Linked DNA regions of Homo sapiens: region 1 is linked to region 2. Evidence: fine-mapped expression QTL. Tissue or cell type: whole blood. Region 2 holds a variant in brackets; the other region holds the start of a gene. All regions are shown on one strand. Distances are from middle to middle.

Evidence for each region. PIP is the estimated chance that this variant, and not a neighbour inherited with it, causes the effect.
Region 1: OR6N1 starts here. The variant in region 2 is fine-mapped to the expression of OR6N1 in whole blood (INTERVAL, PIP above 0.99).

What each region holds. Positions count from the first base shown.
Region 1 is chr1:158,767,652-158,773,806 of GRCh38, reverse strand. OR6N1 (olfactory receptor family 6 subfamily N member 1) reads left to right here and starts at 1,612. Exons shown (of 2, transcript NM_001005185.2): 1 at 1,612-1,786.
Region 2 is chr1:158,740,468-158,749,354 of GRCh38, reverse strand. It overlaps the pseudogene OR6K5P. Among named protein-coding and RNA genes, the nearest start is that of OR6K6, 9.8 kb to the left of the region's middle. The variant A/G (reference allele first, on the strand shown) is at 4,487.

The sequences.
Region 1 (6,155 bases), 26 kb before region 2:
ATAAATTATTTTGGTAGCCTTGAATTTTCTCAGGCAGGCACTTAAAGAGGTGCTAGGATAGACTATGGCCTTGAGTTCTTAGAAACTATGTTAGTGTTTGTTTAAGTCTTTTAATACATGTGGTGGGGGAGGGAAGATGGGGAGGGTGGATGAAATCATTTTTGCTGACAGTCTATAGATTTTGTAAGCCAAGGCTGAGGTTTAGTCAAAAAGAGAACTAGAGTTCAATGAAATTGAGAATCTTTGTTAGAGGAGTCAGTTGTTAAACATTTACCCCAACACATATAGAGACAGAATATCATTTGGAGGGGAGGGTAGCAGAATTGATGGATATATTTTAGGAATAGAGGATATTCTAGTTCACAGAAAAGAAGTAATTGAAATGAAACTGACAGATGTGGAAAATTTAATTTAAAAGGTAGTGGGTATTTAACTCTTAATTGCCTTATAGGGATTTAGAAAACCTGAATAAACCTCTAGTCATTAAGTAAATAAAATTATTACTTAAACTCTACGTATACTAGTCAAAAAACAAAATAATACTTTGACTCAAAAATTAAGTTATTAGTTAAATATCTATTTACCACAAACAAAATATTAAATACTGGCAACTCAGTTTGAAAAAAAAAAATCTTCCAGAAATAAATTAGGAGATAGAAAAATATAAACTTTGATGAAGAATATTGAAAGTGTGGGTGGGATGGAGAAAGTGACAAAAATTATTTAATTCTTCTCATAGTTCATATTATAGTTTGTAAGTACTTTTTTTTACATTATCACATTTGATTATTAATTTTATCTGAGGAAAGTAAATCTTCCTTATACTTTTTAAATTTTTTATCTGACAAATAATTATATATGTGATGTTTTGATACATGTATGCAGAGTAGAATGATCAAATTAGGCTAATTAACATATTTATCACCTCACATATAGTACTTATCATTTTTATTTTGTGGCAAGAGTATTCAAAATCCACCCTTCTGGCAATATTGCCAACCATGGCTCAGTGAGGTGCCTAATGTCTCATAAGTATTTGGAAGAATGGCTGGGATTGTATCCAAGATTCTGAAGCAGCACTCTTTACGGAGCAGATAACACTAGAGTAGAGAGGAGACTGCAGTGTGTAAGACAACATATAACGGCTATAAATATGAGCAACAGACAAGATTAGGAGTCGGTCTTGATGATATTTATGTCCCCAGTGTCTCCCTGTCCTCACCCTTTCAGGGTCAAAGAAGGTCAGTCAAATTTTATAAAGATCCTATCATAATTGAAAGTTGTATGCTTACTCCCAAGTCATGCAGTACAGGAACCCATTTGAACCTAGTTTTCACACCAGTTATTGTTATTTACTAAAGGAAGTAATTGCCTTGAGACATGTTCTATCTCAACTTGGACTGGTAGTTATTGTTGTAGTAACTAATAGGTAATGAAGGACTACTGGCTAATGAACTTGCTGTATGTCAGTTCCCTTCCTGAGAGAGCACTTTAGTGACCCCAGGAGGTCTGCTCAGAAGGCCCATGGGCTTCTGCCTCTATGAGGTCCCTATCAAGAATCCAGGTTTTATGGGAGAAGAATTTGTTTTATGGTTTAACTTATTCCCACAGGTTCCATCAAAGTGATAAACTTCAACCCCTCCAGGCCCCGGGAATGGCTGGGTATAATACTGCAAATGAGACATAGGAAGTATACAGGAAGTTCTCTTCAAACTTCGGACTCCGAGCAGTGGCTGGGCTTCCAGAGTCAAGCTCTAGCAGAGCACTCCCCACCAACAATCTCTAGGTAAGACTTTATCAAGCAGGCATTTTCATCTTCACATTCCTTCTTAGTCTGATCACTAAGAGACCTAGAGGATTCAGAAATATGGAGAGGTTTTTGAATAATCAGGGTCCATAAAACACATAATTGAAACACAGAAACTATTTTTAAAAACAGATATTCTGCTTTTCAAATGCTATAGTGAAGAGTCTGGCTTCAAAATTAGTAAATTGGCTATATTTTTAACTAACTGTGTAAACTGGAACAAGTCTTCTCCCCTTTCTGGATCCCAGTTTTTGTTGTTTGTTTGTTTGTTTCGTTTTTTAAATGAAGACGTTGAGTGTGATAATCTCTAAAATTGCATCTCCCTTCTTACCCCCAGATCTTTGGCCCTATGCCTAAACAATTATGAACTATGAATAATGCAGCTGTGGTATCTGAAGAAAAGAATGCAAGGCATATATTCTAAAAGCTTTCTAGAATTAGGGGAATAAACTATGATTTCAATGGACCTAAGTAAGATAAATGTAAATTTGTATATGTGGTAGGTTTTATGAGAGCCCTGATTCCAATATCAGGAATAGGAGTAGATGAGTAACTGATGAGCTAAAGAGCTGCACAAGTCATCTCAATTGCCCTCTTTTTCATTACCCACCATAACTCGGATATATCAGGCATTGTGCTAAGTACTCTAGGAGGTAGGACATGGTATGAAGTTTCCTCATTAATTTCAAAAAGCTCACAGAGAGTTGCCTTGGAGTGATAAGACATATGCCTGGAAAATAATTGCAGTGCATTACAGGATATAATTGGAGGGACAGTGAGAAAGTACTACTGAGAATTTAGAAGTGTGAAAGAACAGTATTTAACTTAGATGGTCAGGGAAAAAAATGACAGACTTGAGCTAGAAAATGATTCAAGTGTCTTCAGATTGACAAAAGATAAAGCATATTTTTAGTGAGGGTACACTGCAAACAAAGGAGTCTGGGCTAAATACAGAAACCCACTTGGCAAACATTGAAATTGCTATAATGGTGATGAAAAGAATGTTTGAACACATGACTCTGGACCAGAGCAATAGGGTTGTTTCACAGAGCAAAACAAAGAATAATGGTGAAAGCCAGGTTTCTGGTCATTGGAAAGGACAGTTGTAAACTAAAACATTTCAAAAATGGAGAGAACTGTCTTATGGGTCAGGAAGCTTCCAGTGCTGTAAATCCAGGCAGAGGGTTGATGCCCATTTGTGGCGATATGGATTCCTTTATGAGTGAGAAGATATGAGTTTTTGCTGGGCTGAATCAAAATTAGAAACATAAGTACAAATATGAAGTTTGATACACATGATTTATCCTTCTATTTTAGCCTTCCTTTTTGTGATATTTAAAGGTTTTTTCTTTTTATGAGCTGTTGGAAATATATAATACATTTCAGATATTCCAACAATCCAGTGAAATCCAAAATTATGGGGGCCACTGGAAAGTGATAGTTCCTAAAGCTTCTCTCAACACTAAATTAAGGTTTATCAGTACTAGCAGTTACAATCATAATTAGAAATAATAAAATAAATTTTTTAAAAAGGGAAAATCATCAGTATTTTTTGCCATCTTAAAGGGGGTGTGAAAAAGAGAAGGAAATGGTCCAAACCTCTGAGAACTGTGAACTTGGAAGATGAGGGAGTTGGGGGTGCTAGTTTTCCGTGGAAAATAATAATACTTGATCGGATCCTGATGACTTTGATTGCTTAGGCAGAGTATGGAGGGAGTGAACAACAGCAGGTCATTAATGAGTGATGATACAATGTATAGTGTGATAATAAGTCTTTGGAGTTATGTGGAAACTCTACCTTCTGAGAAAGGAGACGACAAAATACTGGCTTCTCATATTCAATCTTCTGACCAGCCATCCATGTAGATCTGAAAATTTAGTTAAGGGCTCACAGTCTAGACAACTCATCTGTGAGTGGGACTGGAGGCCAGAAAAGGAAAGAGGCAGCTCTAGAATAGAACCTTTTATTTATATTTAGAAGGGAAGGAATATAGAACATCTAGAAAACAAGGGTCTGAGAAGAAGTAGAAATTTAGGGATAATCCTTTATAGAAGGCAGGTATGCATTCAAGACTTGAAGAAAACAGAAGGCAGAATTGGGCAGTGGATAGACATGGATATGCGGTGAGAAAAACTAAGACAAAGAAATTTTGGATAATAAAGTAATTATTCTGAAGCAAAATCACCCATATAAAAGTTTGGCCCGGAAGTAGTTCTCTGGAATCTAAGTAGAGAAACATCCTATATTAAGTCTTGGATTGAGAAAGGCTTTTGTATATGGGATGGACATGCTCCCTAGGTTTAGAAAAATGCCAAGAAAAATCAGAGTAAACAAAGTTAGTTTGGATGAATTTCAGGATCCTGGAGAGGGAAGAAGTGATAAGAAGACCGGAGGGCAGAAGGAGAAGACTCGGTGTCTTTCATAACTCTCTGCCTTTGCACAGGCAGTTCCATTTGCTTCAAATACTTTTTATTTCATTTTTCCATCTAAAAAATTCTGACAGTTTCTTCACTTCAAATAAAAATTATATCTTCTGGCAAAGCATGGTGACTTATGCCTGTAATCCCAGCACTTTTAGAGGCCAAAGCAGGTGGATCACTTGAGCCCAGGAGTTCAAGACCAGCCTGGGCAATATGGCTAAACCCCATCTCTACCAAAAACACAAAAATTAGCCAGGCGTGGTGGTGCACGTTTGTAGTCCCAGCTACTTGTGGGGTGGAGGTGGGAGGATTGCTTGAGCCCAGGAGGTCAAGGCTACAGTGAGCAGAGATCCTGCCACTGCACTCCAGGCTGGGTGATAGAGTGAGATGCTGTCTCCAATAATAATAATAATAATAAATTATGTGTTCTATGAAATTTTCCTGATTTATCTCCATATCCAGCCCATGGCTTGTAACTCCTACTGCATATGCAAATTAGCAGTTATCTTAATAGATTTGCATATTAATTACATAAATATTTATTGAGTTGTAACTATATTTCAGACATGGCTCTAGGCACTTGACATACACCAGTAAACAAAATAGAAAAGAAAAAAATCTTTGCCCTTAAGGAACTTATAATCAAAGAGGAGAGAACCAATAAACAATAGGAATAAGAAATAAGTACATTTTACAGGTTAGAACATGACAAGTCCTCTGGAAAAAAAGTTAAAAATTAAGTAGAGAAAGGCAATAGCAGTACAGAATATGGATGTAAGGATGGAGGCACACTGCAGTTATATAGGGTGGCCCAGGTAGTTGAGCTGGTGAAATTTGAGCAAAGATGAAATAAATGAAAGAGCTATCCAAATGGTGAAAGAGATTCTAGAACAAGGAAAGAGCTACAGCAAAGGTTTTAAATGATATGTCACTGAACACATTTGATCGATGGAAACGCAGAACCTAATTTAGAATTTAACAGGATCACTCTGGTGTGTTGAGATGAGGCTACAAGTGAACAAATGCAAGTAGGGAGATCTGTTAGGAGTCAATTACAGTAAGAGGGGAGAGATAAAAGTGACTTGGACCGAGGTGGTCAAACATAGTCAGTTCCTGGATATATGAGAGAAAGATAGAAACAAGGATGACTGCAGGAGTTTAGCTTGTCAGTTGAAAGATTGCAATTGCCATCATTTGTGATGGGGAAGACTAGGGGTAGAGACCCCAGGAGTTCAGTTTGAGATGGCTCTTCGACTCCCAAGAGGAGATGTGAGTAGGCAGTGAAATATATGAGTCTGGAGTAGCAGAGAAAAATATCGCCTGAGATATGGATTTAGATGTCTTCAACACATTTATAGTGTTTAAAGCTCTGGTATTGGATGGTATAGAGCAGAGGAGTTGAGTTTATATAGAAGAGAAAAAAAAAAGATTAAACACTGACCATGGGCACTGTGACATTAAAAGGATGGGGCATGGAGGAGAAACTAAAGTTGGAGAATGAGAAGGAATGACTAATAAGATAGAAAGTAACCAAAAGTATAGTACCCCGAGAATCAAGTCAAGGAAGTGTGTGAACAGGCTGGATAAATCAATACTGTCAAGAAACAGATAGTCCAAGTAAGCTGAGGAATGAGAAATGACCATTGGATCCAGGAAATCTTAGATAATTAATGTCTATGAGAAAGGAGGTTTTAATGGAGTGGTGGTAGTATAAATCTAATTAGAGTGGGTTTAAGAAGAAACTTAAAGAGAGGCATTAAAGGCAATGCGTATAGCCGACTCTTGGAAGAGTTTTCTTTTAGGGACATAGAAAGAAATAGAGCAGTGGCTGTGGGATGAGTAAAGAGAAAGAATTTAAGGCTCTTGCTTTTTTGTTTGTTTAGTAGATGAGAATAATAGCATGTTTTTACATTGATAGAGTATTCCA
Region 2 (8,887 bases):
AGCAAAGAAATAGACTAATATAGTATGGGATTTTAACATACGTGAGAGTAGGTATAGCAGACCACTGGGGAAAAGATGAACATAGCCAGCACAACAGGTCTGTGGAAAAAGGTGCATTGTTTAATCAATTGTATTGGAACTTTAGTTAAAATTTTTCAATTCCATATAAATATAAACCATAAATTTAAAGACTGATGAATAAAACTATTTAATAGTTCGTTTCATCAAATAGCATCATTAAAAAGAAAAACAACAAGATATACACTAGGAGTCTGTATTTGTAATAACGTTTATAACTGATTATTTTTATTTAGAATATACAAAAAGCTTCTACAAAGTAATAAGAAAAAGATAAACAACCAAATGAGGAGTACACACACACACACACACACACTCACACATACACACATACAACATTCAACTGCAAATCAAAGCAATAGCATATTGTTTACACAACAACTGAGTAGCAAAAATATGACCACCCAGAACATTAGAAAAGATGTGCAACAATAAAAATGCATTTATTGTTGGTGGTAGACAGATTCTGAAAAACAATTTGGCAGCATCTAGTGAAGTTGAAGATGCAAATATTCCAGAATACAAAACGTTGAAGGCTAATGAATGATTAAATTGTGCTCCATTTATACAAGACAGCAGGGATTTTCTTTTAAAGTTGCAGCTAGATACATTGATGTGAATGATTCTCAAAACATATGTTGAGTGAATAAGCAAATTATAAAGTAATGCCTAAAATACCATTCTATTTACATAGAGTAAAACAGAACTAAACAGTATATTGTTTTTGAGTGTGCACACATGTGCTAAATAGAATAATAAACACAAAATTCAGGTGAATGGTAATATGTAATATGGCAATAAAGAACTGGATTGGGGAGGAAAGTGTAGTGGTCTTCAAAGTTATTCATAATATTCTATCTCTTAAGTGGGGTTGTAGGTTCATGTGAACAAGAAGTGAAAAGGTGGAGACAGAAATACTGATAAAAGAGTAAACTATGCTTTTAGGAAAATAAGATCGGGAAGAAGAAAGGCAGTATGGCAGACTTAGAGCAACAATGAAAATGAGAAAGAGTATATACTTTAATATGTTTGAGCATATTCATAAGCTATATAAGCAGACTAAAAAGAGGAAAATTTGGAGGATACATAGGTAAGTGAGACAACTGAAGGAACAGTGTCTCTGCATGAGATGAGATAAATAGGTTCAAAGCGTAAGAGGAGGAATTTATCTTAAGTGGTAAGACTGGATAAAATCAGGGTCAAAAAGTAAACATCAGTGTGGCTACAAATTAGACTATCTTTGAGTCACTATCTGATTCTTTAGCTATTCGCCGATTCATTTAATTATTCGTTTATTTAGCTACATATTCCTTAATCGAATGCTTATTGAGGGACTGTCTTTATTTATTGTTATTGTTTTTTATTTTTATTTTTTAGAGACAGAATCTCACTCTATTGCTCCGGTTGAAGTGCAGTGGCTGCTTACAGGGGCGATCACGGTGCACTGCAGCCTCGAAGTCATGGCCTCAATCAGTCCCCCTGCCTCCACTCAAGGATCTGCCTTAAAAATCGCCTATTAAAAATCTAATCATTCAGAGTCGAAAGTCACCTCTGCTCTGACTCATTTTTCGCACCATATATGCCTGTGTCTCATAAGTTTTTTTTTTCTAATTTCAAATATGCTTTCAAATTCTGTTGCATTTCTATATCCACTGCTACTGTTCCACTAAACATTTAACACTTCGTGATTGTTTTATATCTCTTTTTGTGATAGAAGAAAAAAATCTTATGTGTTGTATATGTCTATTTCTTCTGCCTTTACCCACCTGGAGGTTAATATTAAGTCCAATTTCAGTTTTTAAAAAGTAGGAAAAAAAGAATTAGAAAAGTATCCTTCTGCTTCTATTTCCTGTCCTCTATATGAGGGCCCTTTTTTTTTTTTTCCTCAGGTCTGTCCAAGGTCTAGCTCATGTGTGCTCATCAATACAGCTTTCATGTAGCAGGAAAGGTTGCCCTTCAATCCTTTCCTGACTCCATACACTTGGGATATCTGCTGCTGGAACCCCTGAAACCCATGAAATCTCATGAGAGCCCCCTCATTACTGCCACTACTGCAAATGGCCCTGTGATCCCTGGATCCTTCTGAAGAAATTCTACTAAGCTGTGCTGGATGGCAGCTGGCTGAATCTTCTGCAATACACTTCAGGGTTGTGCTGTGTGATCACTAAACTGCTCCAAAGAGTAGAGAAAATTCTCCTGCCTTTGAACCACATTGCGTTAGTTTCATTCCTTTTGTTCCTTATCCTTTCCCTTTCTCAGCAGATTTTGTAATTTAAACTATTCTTTTACCCCTTGGACAGAATGGAAAGCCAAGTACTCTTTTCATCTGATTTCTAGCCTGACTGAAAAACCTAGCTTCCCATAGGTGTGTTGACCTCATGAAAGGGGAGTGTGTCAGCAAGTGTTTTCCTAATTAGTCTCATGGGGCATAGAGTTGCTTTTCCCTAAGCCCCCCAGGAAAGAGCCCTTTAGAAGAAAGCCTTTCTCCCACTTAGCAATTCCCTGTGATGCTTAGAGGTGTGGCTGTGGTTACAACCTTCCTACTTATTGGGCTGCAGAGCAATGAAGATGGAGACATTTGGAAAAGAGGAGGTGGCTCTGTTGGTTTCTGGAAGAGGTAGCTATGGACTGATGGGTGGACTTTCTACTTTGAGATATGAGTGAATGACTTTGTTTACTAGATATTGGGGGACAATTTTCACAGAACCATATTATTTCCTATTGGACTTTAAAGAAGGACTTGTGGAAATTTTGTTGAGATTGTGACAACACATGAGGTAGAGGAAAGGACCATAACTTAGGGATGGAGGGCTTTGGTGAGTGTTTGTCCTACAATTAGAGATTGCCGTAAGATAACAAACACCTGGACTAAATCTGTCAAATTGTGTCTGGCCCACTAGCTCTATGACTCTTTCACAACTCTACTATTTTCTGAGCTAAATTCTAATCTAGGTTTGTATTGTATTTAGTGGCATCAGGACAGGCTCTTAAGAATAAAGGAATGTCAGGACAACTAGTGGAGCTTCTGGTTGAGATTCTGGGGTATCCATTCCTACAGAAAATAGGAGAGTCCTATTAGGTATAACTTTGCTCCCAAGACTCTATATCAAATTGCCTTCCTATAGGCATCCTCTTTCCTTCTTAAAGACTCAAGTTCCTAAAGACCTACCTTTTTAACAAAAATTTCCAGATTTCAATTTTCTAATTCCAAACGGTACTGGACATAGAGCTTAATGCTTCTTTCCCTGTTTGTCTCCCTACTGCCTCTGTAAGCAGAACACAGAACAATTACACGGGTATCATTTTCTATCATACTAGGAAAGCCTGTTGGGGATAATACAGTCATAAGATATTGGGATGACAAAATAATTTTACAATCTCATATACAGCCATATTATCTGTTCTGCTTAAAGGCTCAGGTTTGATTTGGAACCCTACAGAGAGCCAGTATAAGGTTTTCAGACAGAGGATTGACAGCTTTGCATTTAGGAAAGATTATTTCAGTAGCTATGTGAAAGTGAGATGTAGTAAGACAAGTCTGGAAACAATAAGCCCAGATAAGAGTAATTAAGGTAAAAATTGCTAGAGTATAAATTATTTTTTATGAGCCTCCATTTCTTATGTAAAAGTTTTCTTAAAGAAAAACAAGGGAATTTTCACCTCATATTTTCCTGTTTCAACATAGACTTACTATTTTGCTGTATGTATAAAAAGCAAGAGAAAAAAAATTGTGGTTGCCATATGCCAAGCTGGGTTCTTACTTGTGTATAGCCTCCGGCATTACGGTTTCCAAATAATTTTATCTATTTATTGTATCCATTGGCAGTTCAGAGTTGTCTGACTTTTTTGGTAGATATCAGTAGCTTTCTCCATTTAGAGGTCCCATCTTCACCTCAGTACCAAGTGAAGAGTCAGAATTCTGCCATGCAAACAAACGTTTATTAGCAAACAGGCAAAAACATACTACTATTAGGCCTTTTCTTGGAAGCTCATGGAAGTCTCAACTCTTTTTCCTTATGCTTTCTGGTTAGTATAATAAATGAAGGTTTCTATCAAAGATAAAATGTAATAAAATTCTCTGCAGTAGAAAAGCTAACTTTCTAGTGAGATTAGGTGATAAATACCCTTTTAAGGAGGGAACACAGGAATGAATGGATCATGTGCCTATTGCACCTCTCCAAGCTCTATAGGCTGCCTAGCTCATCCTGTTTTATATCCCTGCAAGCCAGAGGTTAGGAATACTTTCAGCCAATCAACGTATCTTGATCACCTGGTTTTTCATTAAAAAAAATTTCTGTATGCCAGTGGTTCTTAACTGGCACAAATTTTCTTCTACTTCTTCCCTGCAGGGACATTTGGTGATTTCTAGGATGATTTTGGTAGTCATGACGAGGGAGGGGTCTATGCT[A/G]CTGACACCTTATAGGTGAGACCAGGGGTGGCTGCTAGACATTCTATAATGCACGAACAGCCTTGCCTTCTCTCTGAGCAATGAATTGTCTGTTTCAAAATGTCAATAATGCTGAAATTGACAAAACCTGCTTTACATTATTTAATAAACTCTACAGTGTGGATACAGATAAGAATATTTGAAGCCCTTGTCAAAACTGCCTCTTGAGGTAGACTATTGATTAAAGTATTTCAAATGTTGCAAATTACACCTAGAATGTAATTTCTAGATTAGCTCACTTCAACTATTAACTAACTCCCTGTGATAGTTAATACTGAGTGTCAACTTGATTGGATTGAAGGATGCAAAGTATTGATCCTGGGTGTGTCTGTGAGGATGTTGCCAAAGGAGATTAACTTTTGAGTCAGCGTGCTGGGAAAGGCAGACTCACCCTTAATCTGGGTGGGCACCATCTAATCAGCTGCCAACGTGGCTAGAATATAAAGTAGGCAGAAAAACATGAGAAGACTAGACTAACCTGGGCTCCTAGCCTACATCTTTCTCCTTTGCTGGACCCTTCCTGCCCTCAAACATCAGACTCCAAGTTCTTCAGTTTTGGGACTCGAACTGGCTTTGCTTGCTCCTCAGCTTGCAGACAGCCTATTGTGGGACCTTGTAATAGTGTGAGTTAATATTTAATAAGCTTCCCTTTAACTATATATATATCTCCTATTAGTTCCGTCCCTCTAGAGAACCCTAATACACCCCCTTTAGAGTGTAGATTAGATTAATTTGTATACCCATATATGTCACATGAGATTAGCCTCTTGTGTCTTAAAGTAAATAATATTTGGTGGAATGTTTGGATTTTTTCTTTTCATTCAATTGTTAATAATGAGTCAGACTAAGGGAAGCTGCTAATCATACTTTAGTTTCAAACATGCGCACTTAAAAATGAGTTTATTCTTATCCACAGAGGGTATCATTTTGTCATGACCCATTCTTCTGTGTCCCCAACACTTCATCTCAAAAAAATGAAAATGTCTACTTACTTAAATTGTTCCTAATTTACTGTTATAATAAATGTTCTAGCTAATATTGTCATATATTTCTTTTTTAATATCTGAAATATTTCCCCTAGACTACATAGTGAAAGGCTTAAACTCTAAACAGTCTTAAACTCTCAATATAAATTGCCAAATTGCCATTCAGGGGAGTTTGTACCAATTTATATGTCTAACTAGCAATACTGTTAGCTTATCCAACAGAATAATTGACAACATAAGTTATTATAATTACTAAATTTGACAGGATAACTTTATATGTTGCAAAATGACTCACATAGTATATTTTATTTAACCAGCCTAATTTCAAGGCTGTTTAGTTGCTTGAAAAGAAGGTTTTTATTTGTTCTTTGCATGTACTTAGAATGTTGACTGTGTTTTATGAGCCAACAAGTGAAACCGCTGAAAATATGGATCCAGAGAATCAGACAATGGTGACTGAGTTTTATTTCTCTGATTTTCCTCAATCTAAGAATGGCAGCCTCTTATTCTTCATTCCTATGCTCTTTATTTATATATTCATTCTTGTTGGAAATTTCATGATTTTCTTTGCTGTCCAACCGGACCCCCATCTCCATAATCCTATGTACAGTTTTATCAGTGTCTTCTCCTTCCTGGAGATTTGGTACACCACCGTGACTATCCCCAAGATGCTCTCCAACCTTCTCAGTGAACAGAAAACCATCTCTTTCATAGGTTGCCTCCTGCAGATGTACTTCTTCCACTCACTCGGGGTCACAGAAGCCCTAGTCCTCACAGTGATGGCCATTGACAGGTGTGTAGCCATCTGCAACCCCCTTCGCTATGCAATCACTATGTCCCCTTGACTGTGCATCCAGCTCTCCACTGGCTCTTGCATTTTTGGCTTCCTCATGTTACTGCCAGAGATTGTGTGCATTTCCACTCTTCCATTCTGTGGCGCCAACCAAATTCATCAACTCTTTTGTGACTTTGAACCTGTGCTGCAGTTGGCCTGCACAGATACGTAAATAATTCTGGTTGAAGATGTGATCCGTGCTATTTCCATTCTGACCTCTGTCTCTGTCATCACCCTTTTCTATTTAAGAATCATCACGGTGATCCTGAGGATTCCCTCTGGTGAGAGCCGTCAGAAGGCTTTCTCCACATGTGCAGCCCACATTGCTATTTTCTTGCTGTTTTTTGGCAGTGTGTCACTCATGTATCTGCGCTTCTCTGTCACATTCCCACCATTACTGGACAAGGCCATTGCACTGATGTTTGCTGTCCTTGCCCTACTTTTCCTTTTTTTTTTTTTTTTTTTTTTTTTGAGACGGAGTCTCGCTCTGTCGCCCAGGCTGGAGTGCAGTGGCGGGATCTCGGCTCACTGCAAGCTCCGCCTCCCGGGTTCACGCCATTCTCCTGCCTCAGCCTCCCAAGTAGCTGGGACTACAGGCGCGCGCCACTACGCCCGGCTAATTTTTTGTATTTTTAGTAGAGACGGGGTTTCACCGTTTTAGCCGGGATGGTCTCGATCTCCTGACCTCGTGATCCGCCCGCCTCGGCCTCCCAAAGTGCTGGGATTACAGGCGTGAGCCACCGCGCCCGGCCCTTGCCCTACTTTTCAACCCAGTAATCTATAGTCTGAGGAACAAAGATATGAAAAACGCCACCAAGAAAATCCTCTGTTCTCAAAAGATGTTCAATGCCTCTGGGAGCTAATGGAGTTCACACACACCTCTTCAAAGAAATCTCATCATCTCCTTAAGTTTAAAATGCTAACAAATCAGTTTTTTAAAATTACCACGCACTTTTTCTTTTTTTAACGAAATTATTTAAAGACATTTTGGCATGTATTTTCAAAGTGAAGTATCTCTTTAATGATTTTTAATATGAATAACAACAGTACTAAGTTTTGTGTCTATCATTTTAATTTATAGGTCTTGTTTTTCTAAGACTATAAGTATGATTTATAAATGTTATTACTTTTGCTTGAAAAGTAAGTTAAGCTGTAAAAACAAAAACAAAATAAGTACGTTAAGTTTTAAAGATATTTAAATGATTGTAAAACCTTCTTATACATGTGTCTACATTGTTCTCTTTTCCTGCACTCCACATTTCTTTGTGAAAATCTGTATTCATCTGGTGTCATTTTCCTTCCACCTGAGAAGCTTCCTTCAACTTTTCTCACACTGTGGGTCTGTGGATGATTAATCGTTTTTGTTTTTGTAAGTTTCAACAACGCTTTGTAAATCTGAGCAAGTATTTTATTTTGTCCTCATTTTATAAGATGTTTTTTTCTGGATATAGAAGTCCAAAATATAAGATTTTTTTTTCTTTTTTTCCATGAGTTAAAGATGTTGTTCTGCTTTGTTCTCACTTGCATTGTTTTTGATGAGTAATCTGCTGACATCCTTGCTTGTGTTTCACAATATGTTATGAATGTCTTTTATCATCCCTTTTATTTTTTAGTTCTCATTTATAAGTGGGAGCTAAACATAGAGGTTACATGGACATAAATATGGAAACAATAGACACTATGGACTATCAGAGGTTGTGAAGGGGTGGGTAAAACAACTACCTATCAGGTAATATGCTCACTACCTGAGTGACGAGATCCGTACTCCAAACCTCAGCTTCACGCAAAATCCCCGTGTAACAAATCTGCACATAAACCCACCGTACGTGTTTTGATTTATGCTGTTGATTTGCTATACTTTCTAATTTTCTAATGTAAGGACTAATGTTTGATCTGACAGGGGATGTCTGCTATAGATTTACCTATGTTTCTATCATTCACAGATTATAATGGAATATTTTCTTCACTTTGTAACTCCAAGTAGTGGAGTTTTGATTTGGAGTTTTCTCCAAATCAAAAGAGAATACTGGCCTAAACAATAATCATATTTATTACTTTATAATTAAGTAAATCATATTTATTACTTTCTAAGTGTTTCCATTATGAAATATTTCATTTAATATTCACAATACCCTTAGGTCAGTTTTTTTTTCACTTTCAAAAGATTAACAAGGTGCACACCGGTGAAGTGATTTGGGCTTGGAAAAGAAACCTGGCTTCTTAACATTCAGCCCAGAGACCTTTACCCCTCCATAAATTGTCCTCTGATATATCACAATGATTATGCGGAACATAGAGTCACTGAACTTGTGATGTTTGTATAATGCTGTTATTATGAATTCCTTTATGGATTAATTTTCACATCGTTTTGTAGATTTCAGAGCAAATGCTCTTGGGTCCTTGAAGATTAAATAGATATATAATATATAGGCTTAGGACCAAAAACATAAATATACAAATTATACAAAGATATATAGTTATATTTTGGTAGATTTTTTAAAATTAATATCACTGCTATTAAAAACGTTCCATGTTATGATT